Linked DNA regions of Homo sapiens. The protein of the gene in region 1 purifies or fractionates together with the protein of each later gene. This does not show direct contact. Each region holds a gene or a part of one and is shown on either strand. Other genes may lie near its edges.

Region 1 (3,752 bases):
TTTAATCTCTAAGGCCTCTTGCAGTTCTATCAATATAAAACATACAAGAGCCAACAGGCCCATCACCTCCCAAACTCCTTCAGAAATCACTTGGCCTCTTAAAGCTGCTGAGCCCTAGGCTGTGCACTCCACAAGGACAAACTCAATGTGGTGTTGTGTTTAGACATGACCTATTAGCATGGTGCTACTTCCAGAAGGCTGGCGTTACAAGGTGGATGTTAGAGAAAATTAGTACCTAGAAAATTAGTAACTAGACTGTTAACTTTTCTGCACTCCTCACCAAACAAAGCACAGCATTTCACATGCTGTGGATGCTCAAACAGCCAAGGAATAGGAATAAGGGTACCCCTGCTTTCCAAACCCTCTGCAGGAGATGAGCACACTTGACTTTGGGGGGCCACCAAACTCCATTCTCAAGCTGTGGGAGCCTGAGTCTTAAGACAGAGGGCCACAGCATTCTCAACAATTTGGAATGGCTATAAAAGGGGCCAAGAAAATGGCTGGCCTTGAAGTTGGGAAGATTGAGGACTGGAGTGAAGCCTGTTCTCTAAAGATAAGAAGGGCCTCTGGTGGACTTCTCTGAATGCAGGGTGAACAAATTGACTTCTTGAGCCTCCCTCCAGCCCAAGGATTCTGTAATTGAAGGGAATGGATGACTCATTCTCAGAGTTACAGGCGTTTAGCCAAGCATCTCCTCACATGCATCTAGGACTTAACATCCCAGGTCTGCTGCCCACTCTTTAGATGGCTCTGCACAATTCATTTAACTTCTCTGCGCCTCGGTTATCTCACCTGCAAACTCAGCAACTGGATGAGACAATGCCAATATCCCTTCCATCTCTAAGCGTCTTTAATATTATTATTAAGCCATTAAGATCAAATAAGAGAAAGGGGAAAAAAAAAGCATTCTGCTTCTGGACTCAGCTTCTGTTGAGTCTCCAAGATATATACACAGGAGCTCTGCTTTAGAGAAGGAAATGATAAAAGGAGGACAAGTAGCATCCCCAGGCCACCTCCGTTCCCAGGCCCGCACCCATCAGAACTCAGCTGCAACTGTGAGGCCCCCATGTGAGTGCCAAGCCCCTTGAAAAACAAGGGAAGAGGTTTTGCCCGTGAATGATGTGTTGCTAAAAAGTGAAGACGTAAGACATCCCCACCAACATAAGGCGCTCCAGAGACCAGGAGCTCTTCCATTGTGCCTCCTGGGCCTCGGTTTCATCATCCATAAGATGGGGAGACTGGGAATGGCTTTACACTTGAATACTTCAGGTTGACCACCACAGCCAAGGGCCAAGTAGAGTGGACAGGTATTGGGTAGGATGGGAAGGGGGACCAGCAAAAATTGTGGGGTAAGATTTTGACGCCTGCACAAACACAGATCTCTTCAGAGCCCTCAACTGAAGGCTTCCCATTGGTCCCCTGTCTGGGATGGAGCACCAGGAGTGACCGGAGGGACTAGGCGCTGGGCTCCGGGGTGGGCTGCCAGGACCCTGGGCCGGCTCACCTGATGAAGGTGGTCTTCCCAGTGGAGTACTGGCCCACCAGCAGAACCATGGGCTTGTTGTCGAAGTCGGCATCCTCCAGGGCGGGCGAGTGGAACTCGTGGAAGCGGTAATGCTCTTCCAAGGGCAGCAGCTTGCTCTTGTAGAGTTTCTTGAGCCCCTCACTCACCGTCTGGAAAACCTCGGGGTCCTTCCTCCGGCGGTCGTCCGTACCCAGCCAGCTGAACATCGCGGCCGCCGCTCGCCCCCGGCACGCAGCCCCAGGGGAAGACTCCTCCTCAGGGGAAGATGTCCCGTAGGACCGGTCCGCCGGGCTCCGAGCCGCGCCGCCGCCTCACCCAAGCGCGGGGCTCAGCCGCACCATGGCCCGGGCACGCGGCTAGGAGGGCCGGGAGCGCACTCTCCCTGCTCCTGGGACCAAGCCCAGCCGCTGCTGCATCCAGCAGCCCAGGCCGGAGGGAGGATAAATAATCTGGGCTTGAGGAGGAGGGGTGAAATCTTGGCAATTAAAGTTGAACCTGCAAGGAAACTGCCAGATGCCGGGGTCCCAAGCCGGGGTCCCCGATCGGCCCCCAGCCCTCGCCTGCTCTGCCCTGCGTGCAGCAAGGGATGCTTCGGCTCCGCTCCTGCCGGACCGAGGCGGCTCAGGGGAGACGGCGACGCTGCCCAGCCCGCGGACAGCTCTGCATCCGCAGCAGCATCCTGCAGCCCCAGGCGGTGGTTTAAATGCCAGCTGGGCAGGAAGCCGGCGCGCAGAGGAAGTCCCCTAGTACTGGCAAGGCAGGGCCGGCCCCACGGTTGCGGCGACGGGAAGCCGCGCAGGGCGCCGCCATGTTTGTGGGCAGGCGCTCAGCTCTAGACCTGCGGCCGCGCGGGGAGAGGGATGCTGACCCAGTCCAGTGGGAGAGTGCCGGTGTCTCAGTCTCCGCCTCTGGGGCTTCGATTTGGGAACAGCGCCCTCTCAGGGACGGCTGCGAGGACAGAGTTGACCTATTCATCACACTCCCTGCTTTGAATCGCCTCTCCTTCAGTTGCTGAGGTCAATTCCCTAGGAAAACAGGTACTCTAGTATTGGGGGATTTTTTTTTTTTTTGGCATAGAAAGGGGATCCACTATCAGGTTACACAAAATAACCAAAACTGTCACTACCCAAACTTTTAGCTAGGCTTAGGGTGAAGTCAAAATCGTTCCCATTTACTTATTCATTCATTCCAGCAAAACAAAACAAGCCAAGAAGCAAAATCCCTGCAAGTATTGGGAATTTATTATGGGGCAGTTACAATTTTGGTGACTGTGGATACAGAGATGAGTGCTGAACAGACTCTCCCTTCCAGGAACTCCAGTGAAGGCAGGCTTTAAAGAGGAGGCATGAGCAGAGGGTCATGGGAATACAGGGAGGAGTCACTCCTTTTGTGTGGCTAATTTGAGGAAGGCTTCATGGAAAGCATGACTGTAAGCTGGATCCTAAATGATGAATTGACATCCATTGTTCTAGGAGCGTAAGGAGTATTTGCAAAGGCTTGAGGAACTTGGTGTGTCCAAGGCAGAGTAAACAGTTTGGCATAGCTGGAGTGTAGGGTTTAGGAAGGTGAAAGAGAGTGAGGGAGGCCAAGCATGAAAGGCTTTGCCAGAGATGGGGAACCAATAGCAATGCTATTACTAATCATTGTTACATTAACAAAATGCTCAGCATGTGCAGGGGCCTGGGCTAAGTTCTCAGTGAACATTGCTTTATTTAACCTTCATGGCAGATCATATTATCTCCAGCATCATACTAAGGAGAGTGAGTGGGAACACTGTCCAGGTGTAGGCAAAAGCAGTGCATCGTGTGTAGAGAATTTAAACCCAATAATAAACTTGCTGAAAGTTGATGTGCTTTGTATTGGCACCATTCTAAACAGTGTAGTGATAAAACACTCCTCCCTGCCCAGGCTAATGACTCCCACTACCCTCCCTTCCACAGATGAAGAAGGAGTAGGCTATGGACCAGGCAGGAACTGGAATGCCAAGAGCAGTGTTGGAGGGGCAAAAGAGGTTGGGGGTTGATATGGTTTTGCTTTGTGTCCCCGCATAAATCTCATCTCTAATTGTAATCCCCATAATCCCCATGCGTTTAGGGAGAGAGCTGGTGGGAGGAGATTGGATCATAGGGACAGTTTCATTCATGCTGTTCTCATGATAGTGAGTGAGTTCTCGTGAGAGCTGATGGTTTTATAAGGGGCTCTTCCCACTTGGTTCCTCATACTTCTC
Region 2 (3,652 bases), on another chromosome or scaffold:
TCATTGTTTTACTATACAGTCCTGGGCTTGAATATATACTTCCTAATAAGTAACATGAAAAACAGGTAGTAAGTATGCAGTACAGCATCTTATTTTTCAATAATAACACATATTATGATATAAAGCACATTGTGAAACAAAAGTTTTATTCTGAAAGGAAAGCTTAGTATATTATTTTACCTGTTATGAAAACATGTGTAATTAATTCTCCTTGTATAACATTAAAACACGTAATAAAGCCTTAAGAATATAATTAAGTTGGCAGAAATTCTGGGGAAAAAAAATCAGTTCAAGAGAATTAGAAAATAAGGATATAGCTGAAGCAGACAGACCAACACTTTTTGTCTTTAAATTGTGGCAAGGCTCACCTTTCAGAGGGCCAATGTAAAGAACATCAGTGCCTATAGGAAAGGAAAGAAAGGAATTCAGAAGGTAAAGGAAAGGCCACAACAGAGGACAGAAACAAAAGAATGAAAAGAAAATGAGAAAAAGAAAAAACAGATTTTCCCTAATTGTGAATCATAAACTGAAGTACACATTTCAAGTGGATTTCAGAGTAAAGAACCTTAGAAGCTACAACCTAAGTAAAACGGTTTTTTTTGTTCAATTTAAAAGAATGAAGTTGTGCTGTAGTCAAGTATATAGTGACAAATATGTCTACAACTTTTACCACCATTTGAAATCCATACAATTTGAAGGTAACACAATAGAACTGAATTCATATAGATTAAGAATAATTTTATAGTAAAGTCTTCTCAGTGAATAAACAGGTTTCAACAATTTTACAAATAAAGTTTTTTTTAATTTTTAAGTTCTGGGGTACAACAAATAAAGTATTAATGTAAAAGGGGAGATAAAAGTCTGCCCTAGAAAGAGTCTAAACAGAGATATATTTAATAGTCAAATCTCAAAAGGAAGGGATATTGCCTTATTTATCTTCTGATTTCTTAGTATTAGGGCTAGACATATAGTAGAGGTTACGTAAATAACAATTTGTTACATTAGTCAACAGATGGTATGTGCTCCTTTATTTAAACTACAAAAATTAAGGAGATGAATTTAAGGCATCTAAAAATGTTCAGAATGACATTAAGGACAAGCAGCTCCCCCAAGTCCTAGCTCTGTTAAATTATATTTTGTCCTGTTGTCATAATTTTTCAAAAGAAAATGTGCAATGGGCATAACACTGTTAATGTAAAGAAAATGGCTTTTCCATTCCCTAAATTTAGGGTTAAGCTTAGAAATCCATCTCCTTTCCTACTATTTTTAACTCTTCTCCCCATGCAATGATAGAAACACTGCCTGTGAAAAAGTGGTGCTAATGCTAGAGATTTTTGTAGCTGTCATGACCTAGTCTAGGAAGCAAAGTTAAAAAAAAAAAGTTTTTACTGAAAATATGTAATCTCTTGCTGGACACAGGATATTTGATTTTATGTCCCTGACATGTGTTCTTCCAATGTTAGTACTAAAAAAAACCTGTAAAATCTAGGCCAGGTGTGGTGGCTCACTCCTGTAATCTCAGCACTTTGGGAGGCTGAGGCGGTTGAATCACTTGAGGTCAGGAATTCGAGATCAGCCTGGCCAACATGGAGAAACCCTGTCTCTACTAAAAACACAAAAATTTGCCAGGAGTGGTGGTGCACGCTATTCGGGAGGCGAAGGCTGCAGTGAGCCAAGATTGCATCAATGCACTCCAGTCTAGGCAACAAAGCAAGACTCTATCTCAAACAAACAAACAAACAAACAAACAAAAAACCCTCTAAAATCCGAACACTGTTAATCCTAAAACACAAAGCAAAGTTGTGAACTCTTTATCAGCATTTAAAGAATACTGGGATCGTTAGTCCTGGGGCTTTAAAAGCTAGATCCTTAAACTAGACAGGTATTTTTCAAACTTAAAATTGTGTGACACCTTTTGAAAGGACTAATTGGGCACCCCACACTTATTAAATGTGCTGAACACATTACTCCAACTCAGTTGGGCAAAGGGTATTTCTGCTACAGAGTGTGCATGTAGATAAAGTGTGAAAAAACATTAACTTCTAGGCAAAGTCTTGTTTCTTTCAAAGATCTATTAAATAAATCTGTTACGAAGAATGTCAGTATACTGAAAATGTGCACCTGGTGAGATTATAATTTCTATCCAAAACTGAGTCAAGTTAGAATGGACAATTTGCTTTATAAAGTTTCTAATATAGAAAAGATACTCCCCCTAAATCACTGATATGGTTTGGATCAGTGTCCCTGCCCAAATCGCATGTCTAATTGTAATCCCCAATGTTGGAGGAGGGGCCTGGTGGGAGGTGACTGAATCACAGGGGTGGAGTTCTCATAATGGTTTTGCACCATCCCCGCTTGGTACTGTATAGTCAGTGACTTCTCATGAGATCTGGTTGTTTAAAGTGTGTGGCACCTCCCCACTCCCACCCCTACCTCCTGTTCCAGCCACGTGAAGTGCTGGCTCCTCCTCCGCCTTCCGCTGTAATTGTAAGTTTCCTGAGGCCTCCCCAGGAGCTGATGCCACCATGCTTCCTGGACAGCCTGCAGAACTGTGAGCCAATTAAACCTCTTTTCTCCTAAGTTACCAAGTCTCAGGTATTTCCTTATAGCAATTCAAGAATGAACAAATACAATCACACATTTAATAGAATCAGCCACCCACCCAAATCTGCGTTTCAACTTCCTATAGTTTGTATCTTCTTCAATTCATACTTAATCACTTCGTTGTTCTTATTTGTTCTGTAGGCACTATGTGATAATAAACTCACTTAGCGTTCACAACAACTCTATTATTCTCACTTCAGAGGAGCAAACTGAGGCAAAGCAAGGTTAAATAACTTGTCCAAGGTCAAGAGCAAGTAAGCTGCAGCCAAGCTATAAATCGGCCAGTCTGGGCAGGCGCGGTGGCTCAAGCCTGTAATCCCAGCACTTTGGGAAGCCAAGGTGGGCAGACTGCCTGAGGTCAGGAGTTCGAGACCAGCCTGGCCAACATGGTGAAACCCCGCCTCTACTAAAAATACAAAAAATTAGCCAGGCATGGTGGCAGCCTGCCTGTAATCCCAGCTACTTGGGAGGCTGAGGCAGGAGAATCACTTGAACCCGGGAGGCGGAGTTTGCAGTGAGAGACTGCACCATTGCACTCCAGCCTGGGTGACAAGAGCGAAACTCCGTCTCAAAAACAACAAACAAAAAAACCCCAGCCAGTCTGGCTGTAGGGCTACACACTGCCTCCATGTACTATAACTTACGTAAGCCATTCCCAATTGGTGTGCACCTATTTTTTAAAATTCTGTTACTGTAAGGTGGCTCATGCCTGTAATCCCAGCACTTTGGGAGGCCGAGGCAGGCAGATCACCTGAGGTCAGGAGTTCAAGACCAGCCTGGCCAACATGGTGAAACTCTGTCTCCACTAAAAATATAAAAAATAAGCTGGGTGTGGTGGTGCACGCCTATAGTCCCAGCTACTTGGGAGGCTGAGACAGGAGAATCGCTTGAACCGAGGAGGTGGAGGTTGCAGTGAGCAGAGATTGTGCCACTGCAGTCCAGCCTGGGTGACAGAATGAGACTGTGTTTCGAAAAATAAAAATAAAAAAATAAAATTCTGGCCAGGTGCGGTGGCTCATGCCTGTAATGCCCGCACTTTGAGAGGCCA

Evidence for each region. The genes of interacting proteins can lie anywhere in the genome.
Region 2: the proteins of EHD3 (region 1) and FERMT2 purify together in Homo sapiens (affinity purification with mass spectrometry; one large-scale study listed by BioGRID and IntAct). This does not show direct contact.

Annotation. Positions count from the first base shown.
Region 1 is NC_000002.12:31,232,601-31,236,352, reverse strand, and holds the start of EHD3 (EH domain-containing protein 3), read right to left. Parts: upstream 2,202-3,752; 5' UTR 1,732-2,201; coding exon 1,505-1,731; intron 1-1,504. UniProt on the Homo sapiens protein: ATP- and membrane-binding protein that controls membrane reorganization/tubulation upon ATP hydrolysis. In vitro causes tubulation of endocytic membranes. Binding to phosphatidic acid induces its membrane tubulation activity.
Region 2 is NC_000014.9:52,881,428-52,885,079, forward strand, and holds part of FERMT2 (fermitin family homolog 2), read right to left. Parts: intron 402-3,652; coding exon of another isoform or gene 369-401; intron 43-368; coding exon 1-42. UniProt on the Homo sapiens protein: Scaffolding protein that enhances integrin activation mediated by TLN1 and/or TLN2, but activates integrins only weakly by itself. Binds to membranes enriched in phosphoinositides.